Regions from separate parts of the Homo sapiens genome. Here regions 2 and 3 are each reported to be linked to region 1. The links are microRNA targets in miRTarBase. Many come from high-throughput screens and were not tested one by one. Region 1 holds a microRNA gene; each other region holds the end of a gene's coding sequence.
The links. The annotated mature microRNA hsa-miR-296-3p reads GAGGGUUGGGUGGAGGCUCUCC and lies in region 1 at 1,934-1,955, opposite strand. An mRNA with a match to its seed (bases 2 to 7 or 8) in the 3' UTR can be bound and repressed. Matches are read on the target gene's strand: a 7mer-m8 pairs with bases 2 to 8, a 7mer-A1 pairs with bases 2 to 7 and ends in A, and an 8mer does both.

Region 1 (7,190 bases):
GTGGTCTGTCTCTCCCCTCCAGAAGCAAGCTCCATGCAGAAAGGGCTCTTCCCTCTTCTGTGACTGCCGTGTTCCACCCACATGGCTGGGCCCTCGGGAGGGCTCGGTGTCTAATGATCCCATGGGGAAAGGGGAGCTGGAATGGGGCAGAAGCCACCAGAAGGAAGGTCAGCCTTGGAAAGGAATCACAGTGGGTTTTCCCGAGACAGAGGGGCGAGTGGCAGGTGGGGTGACAGAAGGGAGGCCAACCCTGCAGCAGGGCTGGGGGCAGTGAGGGCTGCAGGGCCTGGGGGCAGGGCTCCCATGAACTGTGCTACGGCACAGCCCAGGCATGGGGACACCCAAAAGAGAGGGCTGGGGTGCCAGCCTTAGCGGGAACAAGCAGGGAGCCCCCCACACCCCCACCTCAAGCTATGTCTCAAGGCCTGAGCCCCTGGGGCGTGCGCTTGCGTGTGAGTGAAGGCCTCTCTGCTCTCTTCCTGGCCTTCCCCAGCGCCCCTGGCCTCTTGCCCCATTCACACAAGGCCTTTTCCGCCTGGTACCTCAGCTGTGGGGCCTGGCTGGTGTAACTCATGGGGCCCCAGTGGGGGGCAGAGGGGCCACTGGTTTCCTGGCCTGCTGTCTCCACCAGGGTCTGGATCCAGGCACTTCTGCTGACAGCGCCCAGCGCGGGGCCACCATGTGCCCAGCGGCCTCCTGCAGAGAGGCCCCTGGGGAAGCTCCCCACTGGCCCCCTTTCCCCTGCCTAAGGGGAGGCCACAGCCACGGGAAGGGCTCAAGAATGGACTTCAGGGGTCCCTGAGACCCCAGAACTTTCAACTCTGAGTGACGTTCTTGCACTGGGAAGGGCCACTGTTCCTGCAGGTCCGGACTCTATTTTGGAGACTCCGCCAGCTCTAGCAGGAGGGAGGCTCACCCTTGCTTCTGCCCTCAGGACAGATGTGGGGACACTTTGCACCCCAAGTCCTCCTAGCCATGCCCGGCACCTCCCACCAAGTCTTGTCCACACAGGGAGCGTCAGGCCACCCTGCCTGTCACACCCCAGTTGCCTTCCTGTCTTTTCATCTTTTTGCTCTGTCCATCCACTCATCCATTGGTCCGTCCAGCAATAACCTGAGACCTGCTCCGTCCTAAGTGTATGAGAGAGTTCTGCCCTTTGGGGTTTAGTCTGGTGGGGGAGACAGGTGTTAAGACAGTGAGCCCGCAACTCCCCGCTGCGCTAATGCCATGAAGGCAGGGCCAGCCGCAGCAAGAGGAATCACAGTGGGGGCAACTGGTTCCACGCAGGAGTTGAGGGTGCCATGTTTCCAGCATGACCCCCAAGCAGCCACCATGAGTCAGAAGCAACCCAAGACCGTCAGACACTGCGCACTTGCTTCGAGGACTCTAGCAAGCAGAGCTGGGCTCTATGAAGAGTAAATACAAGAGCAAACATCCACCACTCTTTCTACACAAGTTTATTAGGCACCTGCTGGGTATCACGTGTGGAGACAAGCTGGACAACGTAACAATCCGCAAGGCAGCTACGGCCTTGCCCTGGAGCTCCCAGTCTAGCAGGGGTGGAAAACAGGTAAGCCCCCCAGCGGAAGCCCCAGACCTGGCATGCTGTGAGGTCGGGGAAGGAGCGGGGGCTTTCCCGAGGAGGCGTCAGTGAGGGTGGAGAGAGCCTCCGGAAGGGGAGCGGGCACCGGCGAGGATGGCACCGCATCCTGCAGGTGCTCGTGGCTGAGGGTGGGAGGTAGGTAAAACTCCCGGCAGTGGGGACCCACGGGAGACTGTGGCAGAGGCGCGGCACGGCGAGTTCACCATTCCCCAGTGCCCGGCCGCCCCAGGGGACTCAGCAGCTGACATGACAGGGGCCCCTCTTGTATCGACTGTCCTGTCTCCACTCCTGGCACACAGCTGCGGGTGCAGCGCTCTTCAGAGCCCTTCAGGAGAGCCTCCACCCAACCCTCTGAATTAGGCACAACAGGATTGAGGGGGGGCCCTCTGGAAGGGTCCTTTCTCCTCACCTCCCACATGAGGCTGGGCCTGATTTCACAATTTCACTCAGGATCTTCCCTCCTCAATCCTCCCAGCCCTGTCCCATCTCAGTGGCCTGTGGTGGACCCCAGATCCACAGACACAGGCCCTCTCCGCACAAGGGCTCACGTGGTCCCCAGCCAAGGCCCCTACAGCACTTTCTACGGAGCCCTCTTCCCAAACATGCACATCCAGCTTGCCTCTCAGCCACCCCGCCTCCATCTCAGCTCCAAGGAGGCCTTGGCAGCAGGCTCGGGGCGCCATGGAACGGTTCACTGCGTCTCTGCCCTGGCCTCACGTGCTGCCGGCTGGCCTTGCCATTCATCTTCTGAAGGCTATTCTCTGATGGCTCTGCTGGCCACCTTGATCTGAGTGGCAGGTCTGTGCTAACAGTGTTTTGTGTGGGGCCCTGGGAGAAGAGTCCATGAACCACTGCCTAACTCAAGTGCTGCCACGGTGAAGCACCCCTGCCTAGTTCTGAACAGACGCAGCACATCAAAGGGGAGCCGGCAGCTCACTCCTGAGCAAAGCAGCAGGCTAGTTCCTCACAGTCAAGGAAAACCACTGGGAGAACCTCCCTGCTTCTGCTGAAGACCTGAGCTGCTTCTCCCGGGTCCCCCAGTGCTGACAGGCCTCTAGCATCAGGTCCATGTGGCTGATTCTGGAGATCTTTAGGAGGATGGGACTGGCTGTTGAGAACTGTCAGTATGAGTCTGTCTGGCTACTCTGCCTGGGAACATTCACTGAGACATAAAGAAGATATTAAATAGCTGGAAAATTAGGAACCCAGCTAGGGCTGGAGGGGAGGTCTTAGAGGATCATTCTGTAAGTGCTGCCGGGGAAGGAACAACGGTGAGGGCTCAGGCTGGCTCTCTCTAGGGTCCTCCACAGGAGGAAGAAGACCACAAATCTAACCAGCCTAGCAGCCCCAGATACACAGAGCACATGTGGACAAAGCTGTGGCTGCCTGCATTCCATGGGATCATCTTGTATGCAGCAGTAAGAAGGGTCTGTTCTATGACTGCTCTGCTGCCTTTTTTTTTTTTTTAACAGCAGCTGGTTTGGAGTCTCCCACGTATTGCCTGAGGTGGTTTGGTGGTAACCAGCTAACAAAAATCCTTTCATTTTAGGTGCCTGTGGGTGGTGTGGTCGCCACCAAGAATGAGTCAAGCCATTTCTAAAGAATCCACAGTAGGCTCTGTCTGACAGGGTGCATCTGGGAGGGCCTGCCGGGCCTTTATTCAACACTAGATACGCCCCATCTCCAATTCTAATGGACATGTGCAGAAAATGTGATACAGAAACCTGCAGAGCAGCCAGTTCCCAGCGGACGTCAGAGATCAGCTCTTACCTCAAGGATCTTGCTCACCAAACTCTCTTTGCTTATCAAACCTTTCTTTCAGAGGGCAAAGGTTAACTCCCATCTAGAAGAGGTTGAAGTACTATGGTTTTCAAACCAGGAACGTGGCACTAATGAGGCGGAGCTCTGGAGAGGCACAGCTGCAGAAGGTTCCAGGGACCCTTGGAAGCAGACAGGGACCCTTGGGAGCAGACAGGTTTGGAATAAAAACAAAGAGAAAAACAGGGCAAAGGATTAACAACAGAAATGAAACCAGGCGCACACACACTCACCTGCGGCATGATCGCCTGCGGTCACACTCCAACTTGATATCTTGCTTCCAACGGCCAGAACGGCCATCAGTGGAACTTACTTTCACGGGCAATCTTTAGGCTGTTGTTTATTGTTGATTTAAGAGAGAAGCAGTTATGGTTTTGAAAACATGGCCCTTTTTCTGATGGGGGGAGAGCAGGTTTCAATGAAATGGGTGTGGAGTCCCAATCTCCAAGGCCTTTGTGTCTGATCTGAGAGAAGCCATCTGCCAGAGTCAAATTCTTCAGGGCCCTCAAGAACAGAGGGCAAGAAGCCAGGCTTAGATAAGCCTTTTCTGAAGCCCTCTGGCTGGCCAGAGAAAGGAGGCAGGGCTATGGTGCTCCACTGATCCTGTAGGGCCGGGGCAAGGAATGGGAACCCAAGCAGAAACCAGGCAACCAACCAGGATTGTTTCCATCATGAAACAATAGAGCAGGCAAACCCATCTACCTCTGGTCCCAACCTTTGTCACGGACAAAAAACCCAGACCCACACAGGTGACCACGACCTCAGTGTGAGGTAGAACAGCTGGGACCCGGACTCAGGTCCAACAGGTGCCCAGGGCAAAGGGGTCCTCGCACCCCGCCCCAGGTGACCCTCCCAGAAAAGGGGTGCTGAATGCTCATCCGTACTGCCTCTGCGGCCGTGCCATCTAGTGGGGAGGGGCTTGGGCACTCTGTGCCCCACCAGAGCCCCCAGGTTCTCAATCTCCAGAGTTCAGACGCCCGCTCCAGTGGGGGCACCAGGAATGGCAAAGAGATGCCTTCACGGTGTTGATGGTGTGCGCCAGCCACCCATGCACATGACCTGGTGTTTCTGTCGTGGAACTGGAGATGCGGCCTTAGGTGCTGACCGCTGAGCCACACAGGTGGGGCTCACTTTCTCACCTATCAAGAAATATACATGGGAAACCCACAGAGCCCTGCCTCCTGGCCCAGCTGCCAAGACGAGGCTGAGCCGAGCCTCTAGAAGCACCAGGTAGACGAAGGGAGGGAGGCACCACAGTAACCGGAGCCATACCTGGCACCTGGACACCTACCCGAGGGAGCTCTCCAAGGGTGCCCCACCTAAGGCCTAAGGAACCAGCTCTGACTATAGGCTGAGTCCCAAAGGGCCAAGGAAGATTCCAGAAGCACTAGTGAACCTTCTCTACACTGCCAAGCCAGAGGCCTCAGAGAAAGGCAGCCTCTCCCAGATGGACCCTGTATTAGTCCGTTTTCACACTGCTGATAAAAACAAACCTGAGACTGGGCAATTTACAAAAGAAAGAGGTTTAATTGGACTTACAGTTCCATGTGACTGGGGAAGCCCCACAATCATGGCAGAAGGCAAGGAGGAGCAAGTCACATCTTACATGGATGGCAGCAGGCAAAGAGAGAGAGCGCTTGCGCAGGCAAACTCCCGTTTTTTAAAACCATCAGATCTCATGAGACTCGCTATCATGAGAACAGCACAGGAAAGACCCACCCCCATACTTCAATCACCTCCCACCCAGTTCCTCCCATGACACGTGGGAATTGTGAGAGTTACAATTCAAGATGAGATCTGGGTGGGGACACAGAGCCAAACCATATCAGATCCCCTTCAGTGAAAAGACCCCAGCTACCCAATGTGGGGCAGCTCAGCTCCTGCTCTCCCCGCTCTCTTCTTGCCACAAGAATCCCATCTCCTAGTCAGGGAGACCTTCAAGCCAGCAGGGCCCTGCTCAGAAGCCTCAGGGCTTCCCGCTGCACTTGCAATCAGACCCCAGTGCCATGGCCGTGGGCTGCCCTTATGGTGCTGCCTCCTCAGCTACCCCAGCTCCTTCCCTGGCCCCTGCTCACTTCCTGCAGCCAGACTGGTTTCCTGCTTCCCTACAGCTCATGGCCAGCTCTTTCCCACCTCAGGGCCCTTCCACTGGCTGTCCCCTCTGTCCAGTGTGCTCTTTCCCCAGCTCCTGTGACTTGGCAGGCTCCTGACTCACCAGAGCCATCACCTCGGACTCCTCCATCAGCTCCATCATTTTCCAGGCAGCATTTGAAAGGCGACCTCTGGAGCCTGACCAGCCACTGGAGTTCAAATCCGGACTCCACGATTTTCCTGCTGTGTGGCCTTGGGCAAGCTATCTGACCTGTGCGTACCTCAGTTTTCCCATATGTTTGCTATGAAGAGTAAATTAATGCATTTCTCTAATGCCTAGAACATGGTAGGCACCATAAATCAGTAAGAGGAAGGGCTTCTCTGTGCCAAGAAGCCTGAGTGTGGGGCAGGCTGTGCAAGTATGGCTAACCCTAGCGTCCCTTGGAAGCCTACAGGAGGAGACTCACACTTCTTCAGAAGATGAGGGGATCTTCTGAGCCTTCATGTACATGGCTCTGAAGGAGTTAAGGCCTAGCTGTGGTCACAACTACCATGGATTCTTCTCTGAGGCCTGGATGAGCAAGAGAGAACTCTGACCCACTAAGGAAAAGGAGGGAATTCTGAATACGAATACGGATTAACTCAGGGGCCGCCTGAGGCCCACAACAGCCCCAACAGAAACTCCCCTCCTCCCTCACCTCCTCTCCTCTTGAAATCCTTGTGCTGAAAAGCAAGGCCCAGGTTTCATAGCAGCCTGGGCCTCCTCTGGCTTTCCTAAGTCATCCCTATCCCGACGAGAATGAGGGAGGCCGAGGGATGCACAGACGTTAAGTGGCTATGGTAACTGCCCTAGCCATTTTGTGTTTCTGCTCAGCTTACTAAGGGGCCCACCAGGAGGAAGGCAGGCAGCCATGATGGCTCCCCAGACCCGGCCATTCAATGCTCATCCATCAGCCCAGGTCTTCCAGACCAATGTCACAGCAAAGGCAAGGAGGCCCCGGCCAGAACTCAGTTGCTGGGTCCCTGCCCAATTCTGATGATGACCCTTGTTTCTTATAAGATAATAATAGCTCCACTTTACTGCAGGGAGAACAAGTGCAAATGCCTAAGGAGGCCAGGCCCCACTCAGAGATGAGTGACAGGCACAAGTGGTGGCAGGCACAGGGGTGTGTGTGCTGCTGGCCGAAAGGGGGCGGCCGCACCCCAGCTACGGTTGTCTATGGACAGGAAGAGGCAGGCCCCAGAAAACTAGAGGCTCCACTAGACCAGGAGAAGTCAAATGGCCAAAGGCTTCTGTAAAATCTGCGGACACCTAAACGTTGGCGGTCATCATCATTCATCCTTAAAAGAACTCCTGTGTGGTCGAAACATACCATGTATCTGGGTGAGAGCAGGCCTGGAGAGCAGCTTCCGGCTCCATCCCACAATGGAGGCTGGTCACCCATTAATTTGTACTATTAATAAAGGTGGCGAACATTTAGGGACACTTTTCTGAGTGTCAGGTGCTGCTTGTTCTTACTTAATTCTCTCCTGGCCCCTTCCCTGAAGTCAGGAAACTGCCTTGGCAGATAAATAAGTCGCCCCAAGGCCCCGGAGTGGAAAGCAGGGTGCTGAGGTTAGCGCTCACATCTCTCTGATGCCACAACAGGGCCCTGAACCACCAGCTCTGCTCCCTACG
Region 2 (7,190 bases), not on the chromosome of region 1:
TTGAGTCCCCCACCTGCTGCCTGCTCTGGCGACCCTGGGTGTGGGAGTGGTGCCGGGCTGCCTTCTGCTTCCGCCGCTGCCGGGATTGCCTCCAGCGCTGTGGAGCCTGTGTGCGGGGATGCAGCCCCTGCCTGTCTACTGAGGACTCCACTGAGGGGACTGCTGAAGCCAACTGGGCCAAGGAGCACAATGGAGTGCCCCCCAGCCCTGATCGTGCACCCCCCAGCCGGCGGGATGGCCAGCGGCTCAAGTCAACCATGGGCAGCAGCTTCAGCTACCCCGATGTTAAGCTCAAAGGCATCCCTGTGTATCCCTACCCGAGGGCCACCTCCCCAGCCCCTGATGCGGACTCCTGCTGCAAGGAGCCACTGGCCGATCCCCCACCCATGCGACACAGCCTGCCCAGCACCTTTGCCAGTAGTCCTCGTGGCTCCGAGGAGTACTATTCTTTCCATGAGTCGGACCTGGACCTGCCGGAGATGGGCAGTGGCTCCATGTCGAGCCGAGAAATTGATGTGCTCATCTTCAAGAAGCTGACAGAGCTGTTCAGCGTACACCAGATCGATGAGCTGGCCAAGTGCACATCAGACACTGTGTTCCTGGAGAAGACCAGTAAGATCTCGGACCTTATCAGCAGCATCACGCAGGACTACCACCTGGATGAGCAGGATGCTGAGGGCCGCCTGGTACGCGGCATCATTCGCATTAGTACCCGAAAGAGCCGTGCTCGCCCACAGACCTCGGAGGGTCGTTCAACTCGGGCTGCTGCCCCAACCGCTGCTGCCCCTGACAGTGGCCATGAGACCATGGTGGGCTCAGGTCTCAGCCAGGATGGTAGGTGGGGGCCCCATGGGGCTGAGGGGCAGAGTAGGGGAGGCTCTGGCCAGGGGAGGGTTGGAATGGGGTCTTTAGTCACTGTGGGTCTACCCCTCAGCCAGTCCCTGCCTTTCCTCCTCCTTTCTGTCAACTCTTGCATCCCCTCTCCCCAGCTCCCACTCTGGCCCTTCCTGGTGAGGTCCGAGCAAGGCTGAGAGAAGCATGCAGACCCTGGGAGAGCTCTCTGGCCATCGCTGCTGTCCCCAGAAAGGTCAAGGTTCCCTCTGCATTCAACAAGTTTACCCAAAAGGCTCCTCTCCTCTGCTGTCTCCTGCCAGAGTAGCTTCTAGGCCTGGTCTGGTGAACAGGACCTAGGGACCCACATGAATTTGGGCCTCTGACCTGTTCTGGGCTAACCAAAACTCCCACTCATCCATCACTCTGCGCATGCACACGTTGTCTATGTCTCTGTCTTTAAGCATTATTTTTCTAGCCCTGCCCAGGAGTGAGTGGCTCCTCCCTCATCGGGCTGGGAACAGAAGTAGGAAATAGGGTTGAAAGAACGTGCTAATGACCACTGCTTGCCTCACGTTCCCTCCCTAGAGCTGACAGTGCAGATCTCCCAGGAGACGACTGCAGATGCCATCGCCCGGAAGCTGAGGCCTTATGGAGCTCCAGGTGTGGTCTTGACCTAATGAGGGGTGTGGAGGGTGGGGGACTACCCTAGGGGCCCCTCACCTGCTGCTCTCCCAGCTTTCTTTTGGGGTGATGAGGATGACATCAAAAAGGGACGGGGACCTAAGCAGCCACAGACCTGTCTCCATCTAGCAAGCTGGCTTAAAGTGGGTGCAGGTGCCCAGAACAGGCAAGCTGAAAGTGATCAGACCCCAACCTTCAAGCCCAGATGACTAGGAAAGTAGTGGGTGGGGAGCCATCCAGCATGGTGCTGGAAAGACACCCGTGTGGTTCTGTTGCGGTCTTCTTGCCCTTGACAACAACCCCCTGGGAGTGGAATCATTATCCTTTTACAGAAAGGGAGGCTAGGGCTCAGAGAGGTCAATAAACTGAGTGGGTCATCCAGCCAGGATCAGACTGACCCAGGCTCAAGTCCCACTCTGCTCCTTCTCAGCAGGCTTCTCCCTGGTCATGGGATCTGGATGAGCTCCTTCCCCTGAGCCTGTTTCCTCCTCTCCTCTCCTTCCTACCAGGGTACCCAGCAAGCCATGACTCATCCTTCCAGGGCACCGACACAGACTCGTCGGGGGCACCCTTGCTCCAGGTGTACTGCTAACCCCTGCCAGGCCCAGCTGCCACACCCTTTCTGGGAGAAGCATGGCCTACAGAATGAAGAGGGGGACCAGGAACCCCTGTGGGAGAGGCTTAGACCTGAAGCAGTGCCCACTCTGGCTCCTCCTGCCTTGGCTGACTGGGTTCCTGGACCATGTGCATTTCACTGGGCCATGGGATCTACATCTCCTTGCATCCCCAGCTGGTCTGATCCCTGCCAGGGCCCCTTCCTTCCTGCTCATGGTCTTCAGGTGGCCTGATCATGGAAAGTAAGGAGTTAGGCATTACCTTCTGGGAGTGAACCCTGACTCCATCCCCCTATTGCCACCCTAACCAATCATGCAAACTTCTCCCTCCCTGGGGTAATTCAACAGTTAAAAGAAGCTTATCTTAAATGTATTGTATTGGGGGGTGGGCAGGGCCCACTCTATGTTATGTTAAGGAGTTGGTTCTGGTTCTTGGCTGATGTTCTGTATCTTAACATGACCACAGTTTGTAAGTACAAAGGTAATTGGTATCTGCCTGCTTTCTTGGCTGTCCTTTCTCTCCCATCTGCCTCACTTAACTGCTGCCCAGAGCAGGAGACAGGATATGTGTCCAGCCTGGCTTAGTGCCCTGCAGTTAAAGTAGGAAGGATAAAATGGGAGTAATGCTGCCCCCATTTCAGGTTCACTGTGAGTTCCAGGAGATAAAGAACCAAGCACAGAGTCTGTGCCTGAGAAAGGTTGGATAAATGGTTTCTGACATTGTTTGAGAGGTTCTTCTAGGGAGGCCTGTCCGAACTGCCTCTGCTCTCCCAGTCCACTGCCTGCAGGCTGGCCTGCTTCTGCCCAGCCCACAGTTTCCCCAAAGCCTTGATCATTTGTTGGCCCTACCCAGCCTTGGACCTGCTGCTCCCCTTCCACTCTCTCTGTGGTAGTAACAGAGCACTGTGGTTTTTTTTTTTTTTTTTTTTTTTTTGAGATGGAGTTTTTGCTCTTGTTGCCCAAGCTGCTGGAGTGCAATGGCACAATCTTGGCTCACTGCAACCTCCGCCTCTCGGGTTCAAGCGATTCTTCTAACTTAGCCTCCCGAGCAGTTGGGATTACAGGCATGCGCCACCACGCACAAATAATTTTGTATTTTTTAGTAGAGACAGGGTTTCTCCATGTTGGTCAGGCTGGTCTCGAACTCCTGACCTCAGGTGATCCGCCCGCCTCGGCCTCCCAAAGTGCCGGGATTAGAGGCGTGAGCCACCGCGCCTGGCCAGCACTGTGGTTTTCACCAGTATCTTCTTGGCCTCTCCAATAACGTTGGAGAAAGGACATTATTCTTTCACAGAGAGGAAACGTGGGGCTCACAGTGAGGTCAAGGAACTTAGTGGGACACGCAGTTAGTAACTGTGGCTCTGGCCTTGCTGGGGCAGATGCAGAATCCCTTCATTAGGTAGCAGAGCCCAGATGAGTTCAGAAGGATCCTACTTGGCTGCTCCTCACACACAGGCTTATCTACTGGTCCTCTTTCAGCAGAGAGGCCGGGGCAGGCCCACCAGCCCATTCTTAATTAACAAACAAGCTAGAAAGTGTTGAGGATCCCCCCACTCCAGCTCCCATCTGACCTGCTGCCCCCACCGCCCTTTTTATTGTTCCGAAAGGCACCCTTTGGAAAGTAACTACTAGACAAATTGTACTTGTTTGTCCAGTTTCCTAAGGGAAACAGGATGATCTCTCAGGGCTATGAACATAGGGTTCAGTTCTAACTCCAGGCTCTGCTGTCGCATCCGGGTCAAGGCCTCCAAAAGATTAAAATGACCACGGGGCAGAACAGGAGTACAGAGCGGTAGAGTGACACCACGAACCAAGCCTCAGCCCTAGAGCACCATTTTCCAAACCTAGCCTTTTAAACCATTATTTGCATTCCCAGGAAAAAAAAAAAGGTTTAGCAAGTTTGGAAAACAGACAAAGCTATGTACTGCATAGCCTCTCTGAAATCTTTAACAAGCTATTCTGAATTTTTTTTTTCCCCGAGACAGAGTCTCGCTCTATTGCCCAGGCTGGAGTGCAGTGGCACGATCTTGGCTCGCCACAACCTCAGCCTCCCAGGTTCAAGTGATTCGCCTGCCTCAGCCTCCCAAGTAGCTGTGATTACAGGCACGTGCCACCACACCCAGCTTTTTCTTTTCTTTTTGGAGACGGAGTCTCACTCTGTTGCTCAGGCTGGAGTGCAGTGGCGCGATATCTGCTCACTGCAAGCTCCACCTCCTGGGTTCACACCATTCTCCTGCCTCAGCCTCCCAAGTAGCTGGGACTACAGGCGCCCGCCACCACACCCGGCTAATTTTTTGTATTTTTAGTAGAGACAGGGTTTCACCATGTTAGCCAGGATGGTCTCGATCTCCTGACCTTGTGGTCCACCCACCTTGGCCTCCCAAAGTGCTGGGATTACAGGCCTGGGCCACCGCACCCGGCCAACACCCAGCTAACTTTTTATATTTTTGGCAGAAATGGAGTTTCTCCATGTTGGCCAGGCTGGTTTCGAACTCCTGACGTCAAGTGATCTGCCTGCCTTGGCCTCCCAAAGTGCTGGGATTACAGGCGTGAGCTACTGTGCCCAGCTATTCTCAAATTCTAAAAAAAACATCTGTGTTCCAGAAATTTAGGAGCCAAAGAACTAAGCACTCACAGCAAGTCAACCTAGACATTCTTGCTATAACCTCTGTGGCCCAAGCATTCTGACCTCCACTCTCTAGCCAAAGTGGGGCAGGGGTCAGCTCTGTGGGCTGGATCTGAGCAAAGGGGAGCACCTCTTCAGCCCTGGGAGCTGGCTTTGAGAAGGCCTAGAATCTGCAGAGGTCCAGGTCTGAGATACAAACAATGGAGCCTCACTGGACTTTACTCTGTCCTCCTGGTAAGGTCCCTGTACCACACACACCAGATCTGAGGCCTGAGCTGTCCTCCTGGTACCCCTCCCCTGAGCCAGGCAGTGTCACCTTGGCCCTTGCTGCTCTTCTGCCCTGGGACACAATAGTCTCTAGTTTCAAGAATACTTGATTCACGGCTAGAGGGCAGACCCGCTGCAGTGGGAAGTAAAAATCAGATCAACAAGTCCAGCGGTCTTAAAACTTTTTTGGGTCATGCGCCCCTTTGAGAATCTGACATGTGTTCTGGTCTCTGTAGCCAGAAAAACTCAACCTTTGCTCAGAAACATACATAGACTAAAAGCCTTGTTTTATTTATTTATTTTTTTGAGATGGAGTCTCTGTCACCCATGCTGGAGTGAAGTAGTGCAATCTCGGCTCACTGCAACCTCCGCCACCCGGGTTCAAGCGATTCTCCTGCCTCAGCCTCCCGAGTAGCTGGGATTACAGGTGTGCACCACCACACCCGGCTAATTTTTGTATTTTTAGTAGAGACTGGGTTTCTCCATGTTGGCCAAGCTGGTCTCAAACTCCTGACATCAGGTGATCTGCTCCCCTCAGCCTCCCAAAGTGCTGGGATTACAGACATGAACCATCACACCCGGCCAAGCCTTGTTTTAATCTTTAAGTAATGAGAAACTGAGGCCCAGAGAGGGGCAAGGATGTGCCCTAGGTCACATGGCAGAATCTGGGCTAGAAGCCAAACTCCCAGTTCCCAGCAGCAGCCGTAAGAGGCCTGTGCCCCAGAGAAAGGCCAGAGGCAAGAGAGGACACAGAAGGAGCTGGGCAAATCGTTTTAATGTGTAACAGTAGGCCAACTGGGGAGGACAAGGTCCCAAGACCCAGCCTTTCTCCTGATGCCCCGGGACCTGTGTGCCTGGGCCAGTCCCATGCCTGCCCCAAGCCCTGAGGCCCACAAGTCCCAGAGAAGAGTGGGAAAGAAAGTTGGGTGGTTGCAGCTCAGCCCCAAGAGTTCAGGGAGGAAAAAACAGGGGCTAGTTGAATTTAGCCTTGGAAAAATCCATCTCCGGATGTTGATCCATGAACCTGGAGAAACGGAAGCAAGATGAAACAGCTCATCCTTCTCTTCTAAAGCTGTCCCTTCTCCCAGCACCCCCGTGTCAAGTCTAATCTCTTTAGACCTCAGCAACACCAAGCCAGGCTGGGCAGGAGCAGGGCCCAGGGTATCTGAGACGCATTTGAGTCCCGAGGCTGGAAGCTGAGGCACCAACACTGGCATTGTTTTCCTGTAGGTGGCAATGACCGCCTGTTACCCCTTCCCTCCTATCATGCACCATGAGCCGGCCTTGCCCTCAAGATGACCTCAGCAAATGACAAGAGTAGGCAAGCCAAAGCCATAAAGCCATAAACATGGCTGGAAAGGGGGCAGGGCAGCTCCTGAGGCAGCGCAGTGATCCACTCACTGCTGTCACCGAAGTCTAAGCCCCCAGGCACCCACGGTCCCCCAACCCCGTCTCTGAATTGCTCACTTCTTCAGAATCTCCTGTTTCTTCTGTTCGTCTGAAGTTGGCAGCCCCATGGACTTCTGTCGCTGGTCATACATCATCTTTTCCACCATGCTGCGAGTCTCACTGTCCAGGTCTGACAGCTGAGGGCAGGCAGTGACAGGAATCGGTGAAGCTCTGGAAACAACGAGGCCCCTCACCTTCCTGCTGAAGCTCCCCCAACCAGCCAGGGCTCACCTTGGAATTCTCAGGGTTAATCTTCTTGGTGTTGATCTCAGGGTCACTGGACACCAAGCGGCTCCACCACTCCATCTTATTGATCTGTGAAGAGAACAACCAGAGGGTGGGAGGTGGCCTGCTCTGTGCACCAGGAATCACCCCTTAACCCTTTCACAACCAAACTCTCTCCCATCCACATCCTGCACCTGAGACCCTTGCAGGCCTACACTGGATCCAGAGGTACAAGACTGTGCCCTTCCTGCAGCTAGGGGAGACACAGAGGCAAAGAGTTACAAATCAGTGTGATAAGGGAAAGAAGAAAGCAGAAAGGGAGATATTCATCCAGGGTGGAGGGAGAAAAGTTTGAAAGTGACACTCGGGCTGAGTCTTAAGACACAAAGCAGTATTCCAGATTTAAAATGGGAAGAAAATAAATATATATATTTTTTGAGATGGAGTCTTGTTCTTCTTGTCCAGGCTGGAGTGCTGTGGCACCATCTCGGCTC
Region 3 (7,190 bases), not on the chromosome of region 1:
ATTGAAAAGTTTATAAACAACACCAGTACTTCATACTTTTGTTTTATCTTCCCTTTGAGATAGACGTTTAGTCCTTTACTGTTATTACCTAGCACAATATCTGGCACACAGTAGGTGGCCACTGATTATTTCTTGAATGAAGTAAGGAATGAGAATATTACCTACAGAGTTAGAGCTCTGCGCATTACTTCCTTCCAGATTTCATACATCTTTTTTTAGTAATGAATGCAAACAGGCTCTGGGGCAGCTACATTATCCTTCTGAATCAAGACAGGGATTTCGCAATGCTTATTTTCAATTTCTTCAGAAATGCCTTAAAGATATTAATGGAGGTAACAACTTAATCTCAAATAGTAATCCATAGACAGAATATGTAACAGCAATGTTCTCTGATCTGTTCTTTGGCTTCTATTCCCTAGAGAAATAGTTCTCTAAGACCAAACAGTCTATAGATAGAATTGTAGCAACAGTCAATTATGATGTTAGCTATTTGAGAGACGGTTGAGAATTCAGAAAAAACTACTGAAATGTTGTAAGACAACTCACTCAAAGAACAGTTCAAATAGTGGAAAAGGGAAATGATGATGTATCCATTTATTTTGTTCTATTTTTTCCAATTTCATAGGATAGCAAATGCTGCCCATTTATTTATTTTTTTATTTTTCATAAGTTATTGGGGTACAGGTGGTGTTTGGTTACATGAGTAAGTTCTTTAGTGGTGACTTGTGAGATATGGGTTCACCCTTCACCTGAGTAGGATACACTGAACCATATTTGTAGTCTTTTATCCCTCGCCCCCTCCATCTCTTCCCCGTAAGTCTCCAAAGTCCATTGTATCATTCTTATGCCTTTGCATTCTCATAGCTTAGCTCCCACATATCAGTGAGAACATACAATGCTTGGTTTTCCATTCCTGAGGTAGTTCACTTAGAATAGTAGTCTCCATTCTCATCCAGGCCACTGCAAATGCTGTTAATTCATTCCTTTTCATGGCTGTGTAGTATTCCATTATATATATATATATATACCACAGTTTCTTTATACACTCATTGATTGATGGGCTTTTGGGTTAGTTGCACGATTTTGCTATTGTGAATTGTGCTGCTATAAACATGCGTATGCAAGTATCTTTTCCAAATAATGATTCCTTTTCCTTTGGGTAGAAACCCAGTAGTGGGATTGCTGGATCAAATGGTAGTTCTACTTTTAGTTCTTTAAGGAATCTCCACACTGTTTTCCATAGTAGCTGTACTTGTTTACATTCCCACCAGTGGTGTAAAGGTGTTCCCTGCTCACCACACCCATGCCAACATCTACTGTTTTTTGATTTTTTGATTATGGCCATTCTTGCAGGAGTATAGCATTGTGGTTTTGATTTGCATTTCTCTGATCATTAGTGATGTTGAGCATTTTTTCATGTTTGTTGGTCAGTTGTATATCTTCTTTTGAGAATTGTCTTTTCATGTCCTTAGCCCACTTTTTGATGAAATTGTTTGTTTTTTTTTCTTACAGATTTGTTTGAGTTCATTGTAGATTCTGGATATCAGTCCTTTGTCAGACGCATAGATTGTGAAGGTTTTCTCCCACTCTGTGGGTTGTCTATTTACTCTGCTGACTGTTCCTTTTGCTGTGGAAAAACTCTTTAGTTTAACTGGGTCCCAGCTACGTACCTTTGATTTTATTGCATTTGCATTTTGGTTCTTGGTCATGAAATCCTTGCCTAGTCAATGTCTAGAAGGGTTTTTCCAATGTTATCGTCTAGAATTTTTATAGTTTCAGGTCTTAGGTTTAAGTCCTTAATCCATCTTGAGTTGATTTTTGTATAAGGTGAGAGATGAGGATCCAGTTTCATTCTCCTATTATGTGGCTAGCCAATTATCCCAGCAACATTTGTTTAAAAGGGTGTCCTTTCCCCGTTTTATATTTTTGTTCGCTGTGTCAAAGATCAGTTGGCTGTAAGTATTTGGGTTTATTTCTGAGTTCTCTGTTCTGTTCCATCAGTCTATGTGCCTATTTTTATACTAGTACATGCTGTTTTGGTGACTGTGCCTTTATAGTATAGTTTGAAAGCAGGTAGCATGATGCCTCCACATTTGTTCTTTTTGCTTAGTCTTACTTTGGCTGTGCAGGCTCTTTTTTGGTTTCATATGAATTTTAGAATTGTTTTTTCTAATTCTGTGAAGAATGATGGTGGTATTTTGATGGGGATTGCATTGAATTTGTAGATTTTTTTGGCGGTATGGTCATTTTCACAATATTGATTCTGCTCATCCATGAGCATGGGATATGTTTCCATTTGTATGTTGTCTATTATTTGTTTCAGCAGTGTTTTGTAGTTTTTCTTGTAGAGGTCTTTTGACTCCCTGGTAAGGCATATTCCTAAGTATTTGATTTGATTTGATTTTTTTTTTTTTTTTTTTGCCGCTACTGTAAAAGGGGTTAAGTTCTTGATTTGATTTTCTGCTTGGTCGCTGTTTGTGTATAGAAGAGCTACTGATTTGTATACACTAATCTTGTATCCAGAAACTTTGCTGAATTCTTTTATCAATTCTAGTAGCTTTCTGGAGGAGTCCTTAGGGTTTTCAAGGTAAACGATCATATCATCAGCAAACAGTGACAGTTTGACTTCCTTTTTACTGATTTGGATACCCTTTTTATTTTTCTCTCTCATCTGATTGCTCTGGCTAGAACTTCCAGTACTATGTTGAAGAGGAGTGGTGAGAGTGGGCATCCTTGTTCCAGTTTTCAGAGGAAATGCTTTCAACTTTTCCCATTCAGTATTATGTTGGCTGTGGGTTTTCATAGATGGCTTTTATTACATTAAGGTATGTCCCTTGTATGCCAATTTTGCTGAGAGTTTTAATCATAACAGGATGCTGAATTTTGTCAAATGCTTTTTCTGCATCTATTGAGATGATCATGTGATGTTTTGTTTTTAATTCTGTTTTCGTGGTGTATCACATATGTTAAATCATCCCTACATTCCTGGTATGAAACCCACTTGATCATGTCATGGTGGATTATTTTTTGATATGTTGTTGGATTCTGTTAGCTAGTATTTTGTTAAGGATTTTAGCATCAATGCCCAACAAGGATATCAATCTGTAGTTTTTAAATGTGCTTTTCTGGACCGGCACGGTGGCTAAGGCCTGTAATCCCAACACTTTGGGAGGTCGAGGAGGGCGGACCACTTGAGGTCAGGAGTTCGAGATCAGCCTGGCCAAAATGGTGAAAATCCGTCTCTACTAAAAAGGTGTTGTGGCGGGCGCCTGTAATCTCAGCTACTGAGGAGGCTGAGGCAGGAGAATCGCTTGCACCCGGGAGGCGGAGGTTGCAGTGAGCCGAGATCGCACCACTGCACTCCAGCCTGGGCGACAGAGAAAGACTCCGTCTCAAAAAAAAAAAAAAAAAAAAAAAAGTTGTTTTCTGCTATTTCCTGAACTTTATTACGTAAATGAGACACGTGAGATCTGGAAGGAGGTGGAGGTGAAGACCCTCCCACCTGGCCTGCATCCAGAGTACTTGGGGTGTGGCACTGGCGTGGGCCCCAGGAAGGATCCCAGCCAGTTTTGGTGCTGGAGGCCCGGCCAAAGGAAGGGCTGCTCTCCCGTCCCGCGGGCTCCGAGGTCGCCGCACCCGGGCGCGCCTGGGCCTCGTCACCCGCGCTCGTGACGCGTGCTTACAAAGGAAACTTTTACAGGTTTCGGTGGGCAGGGCCTTTTATTGCCCTTCTGCTCCACAGCCCCCGTGCTTAATCGGTTGGTTGGGAGGTTTCTTTCGTCCGTGGTTTTGGAAAGTCCCCGCCTCCAAACCGCAGTCCCGCAGTCAGTTCTGCAGCCTCAGGGCCTCGAACAGCCATGCTTAGAATCCGTCCTTCTTTCCTGCTCCATCTACCCTTCCCCTCTGGCTTCTTTTTTTTCACTGGAGAAAGCCCACCCGAGTCTCTCAGCCTGCTTCGGAGGTTACTGCGGCCTCCTCCACGGGTAGTTCTGGGACCCGGGTCTAGTCCGCGGTTCCGGAGCAGGTCCCTCCCTGGAGTCGTCAGGCCCAGTATGCGTGTGCTCAGTGTGCTCGGGAAACACGCGTGGGCTTTAACAGCAGATCTCCATAAAAGGGTCCCGGAGATAGCCTCTGCCTGGCCCGAGGCCCAGTGCCTCAAAGCGGACGCCTTTGCGCTCCCGGAGGTGCTCACACCACAGCGGAGCCTGCTGGCGAGTGGAGCGTAGGACTGCGAACCAGCAATCTCCCGAGAAGCGGCGAGGGGGAGGGGAATGTCTGTGAATCGGTTATCCCTCCCACCCCCAGCAGAAGTCGGGGAAATGGGGGTGGAAGGGGGAAAAAGGGAGAGAACAGGAGTGGGGTTGAGGAAGGGTAAGGAGGAAGGTGAGCTTCCTACAGCTGCGGGGGAAGGTGGAGAAAATTTTCAGGGGGACAGCTGAGTGGTAGAGCTAGCGAGCTTCAGAGAAATGTTGACAGACAGATGCCCAGAAAGTGAGGATGCCGGGCATGGGCACTGCGTACCAGGCACAGGAGATATATGGAGGCAGGAAATTGGCACATCATAAGCATTTGACCATCCTGCCCTAAAACAAAACAAATTGAACAACAACAACAACAAAAGATAATAGCAAAAGTGGCACAGTAGTGAGCTCGCAGGGCCCATTCCTATATAGAAACACAGAAAAATAAGCAAAAGCTGCCAGAATTGACTTCGTGGGAACTCTGGGAAACAGTAAGAAAGTTTTACAGCAACCAAGTGAGTGCTGAACCAAGGCAAAGGTAACTGAAACGCAATGATAGAGAAGAGGGGCAGGGAAGTGTTGGGTAGACAAAGGCGGGTCCCTGGTAAGGGCCCTCCCCTGGGCCTGTGCCCACTGGACCTAGGTGAGGACAGGCACTCCTTCCTTCACGCCCAAATGTTGCATATCCCAAGACCACCCTGTCCCGCCACGCCCCCATCCTTTGCCTATGAAAACCCTGAGACCCTAGCAGGCAGACACACAAGCGGCTCTATGTCCAGAGGAACTCATCGGAGGAACTGGACGTGGAGCGGGGCACCCCAGCGGAAGGGAGCACGCCAGTGGAAGAGCACACTGACAGACCATAGGAGTCAGTCTGTTATATTATCATAGTATAATATTATAAAATTATTATAATACAATAAAAATATAAAAATATAAATAATGTAATAAATATGGATAAAAATAATAATTACATATTTATATTTATATGAGAACACTATGAATAATTTTAAGCCAAAAAACAACTCGATGTTCATCACTGGATGAGTAGACGAGCAATTTCCAGTATATTCATACAATGGAATATGATTCAGCCATAAAATGAAATGAGGTACTGATACATGCTGCAGCAGGAATGAACCCCCAAAACACTACACTTGGTGAAAGAAGCCAGACACGGAAGGTCACATATTGTATGATCCCATTTATAAGAAATATTCAGAATAGGTAAATCCATAGAGACAAAAGGAGTTTTGTAGTTGCCAGGAGTTGGAGGCAAGAAGAGTTTAACAGGTATGCTTAATGGGGCCTCCTATGCAGTTGACGAAAATGTTTTGGGCTAGATAGGAGTGATGGTTGCATAACATTGTACTAAATGCCACTGAATTCTACTCTTTAAAATTTTTAGTTTTATGTTATGTGGCGTGTACCCTAAAAAAAAAAATAGAGGTGCAGTGCTCCAGCACGGGATGAGGCAGCGTGGACAGGAGCATCTCCCAACCTCAGTGAAGTCTGAGCCGCGTGCCTGCAACAATCCCACTGTGGCAGAGAACCGCAGAGTTCCTTCCGGTTTGGCAGCAGTCATTCGCAACCTCACAGCCCTCTGGAACCCCAGCCTGGGGGTCTCAGAACGCCGAGGCGGGGACTGGGAGCCGAGTCGGATTCCGAGACTATGGGCCAGGGTTGGCTGGATTCAGTTACCTGGCTGAGGCCTGGTGAGCAAAATATCCCAAACCTCGCGTGATCTGGAAGGGGAAGCCGGATAAATACGGATCTCCAGATGTGCCAGTCTCGAGTCTATCGATATGAGGTCCCCCTAGAGTTTCTATTCATCATTTTAACCGCATTTCATCGATCTTGAGACACGGCTTTTGATATTTTATCACCTCAAGATAAATAGTGTTAGATGTCTAATAGCAGCGTTTTTCTAAGAGATACATGAAACAACAGTGTCAGAAACGATGCTGTCTTCCATGCGATGAAATTGTTGTAATAGGTGCTCAATAAATGTTGACAATAAATGAGTGAATGAATGAAAATTATTTTATTTTTATTTGAGCTTTGGTTCTGCCATTTGCTAGCAGTGTGACTCAAGAGAAGCCAGTAACCCCCCTGAGCTTCCCTAGTTCACAAAATGCTTGTCATGAAGTCGACAGCTTCCGGAGGCTGCGAGGCTCGCAAGAAATGCCCACATGAATGTGCGCTTAGGGCGTGAGTGCTCACTCCAGAAAACTCCAACACAGTGAAAAGGCAGAAGCGGTGTTTTTCTTTTTTACATTTTTATAAGAATATATAAAAAATGATATAAATGGACATTTACGGTAGTGGGGGAAGGCATATATCTACGTTAAAAGGCAGGACATTTTTAAAAGCTCTATTTTCTAAATGAAAACTACGAAAGCGGGGTGGGTTGTGGCGGGGGCAGTTGTGGCCCTGTAGGACCTTCGGTGACTGATGATCTAAGTTTCCCGAGGTTTCTCAGAGCCTCTCTGGTTCTTTCAATCGGGGATGTCTGCAGAGGGCAGAAAGAAAACAGGCGTTAGAAACCTGAGGTCAAAGATGTGTGGCACATCCCGCCCTCCTCTCTTGCCGTCCCTACCGGCATTGAAATACTTATGGATAAAGTTCTCGCAATGGCTTCACGTGCATGTACCCGCCGCCACCGCTCTCCCACACCTCCCTGGTCCAGCAGCTAGTCCACTGCCCGCCTGGCTGCTCCAGGCGCGCCGACCGCTCAAGCGCTCCAGGTCCACCCGGCGGAGGGCAGAGAAAGCGCGACCGCGCGGCCCGCAGGGTTGCAAGAAGAAAACGAGTGTTATATAATGAGTCTCAGTGGTTGCTCACAATGCCAGGCGCGAAGGCGTGAAGATGTGGCCTTTCCCTTCCCGCATCCCCAGGCATCTTTTGCACCTGGTGCGGAGTGAGCCAGCCAGCTTGCGATAACCAAAG

Region 2: the mRNA of NUDC is a reported target of hsa-miR-296-3p. The part of its 3' UTR that is shown has no 7-base or 8-base seed match.
Region 3: miRTarBase lists CDKN2A as a target of hsa-miR-296-3p. The part of its 3' UTR that is shown has no 7-base or 8-base seed match.

What each region holds. Positions count from the first base shown.
Region 1 is chr20:58,815,693-58,822,882 of GRCh38, forward strand. MIR296 (microRNA 296) reads right to left here and starts at 2,002; the gene lies at 1,923-2,002. MIR298 (microRNA 298) reads right to left here and starts at 2,621; the gene lies at 2,534-2,621. It also overlaps GNAS-AS1.
Region 2 is chr1:26,944,986-26,952,175 of GRCh38, reverse strand. NUDC (nuclear distribution C, dynein complex regulator) reads right to left here. Exons shown (of 9, transcript NM_006600.4): 7 at 6,703-6,786; 8 at 6,490-6,608; 9 at 5,305-6,046. The coding sequence ends at 5,995. KDF1 (keratinocyte differentiation factor 1) reads left to right here. Exons shown (of 4, transcript NM_152365.3): 2 at 1-834; 3 at 1,420-1,494; 4 at 2,025-2,614. The coding sequence ends at 2,107. Among named protein-coding and RNA genes, the nearest start is that of KDF1, 12 kb to the left of the region's middle. RefSeq lists a silencer at 3,644-3,938.
Region 3 is chr9:21,961,490-21,968,679 of GRCh38, forward strand. CDKN2A (cyclin dependent kinase inhibitor 2A) reads right to left here. Exons shown (of 3, transcript NM_000077.5): 3 at 6,263-6,753. The coding sequence ends at 6,740. CDKN2A-AS1 (CDKN2A antisense RNA 1) reads left to right here and starts at 5,650. Exons shown (of 1, transcript NR_024274.1): 1 at 5,650-6,265. RefSeq lists an enhancer at 1,420-1,564 and a cis regulatory region at 1,490-1,492.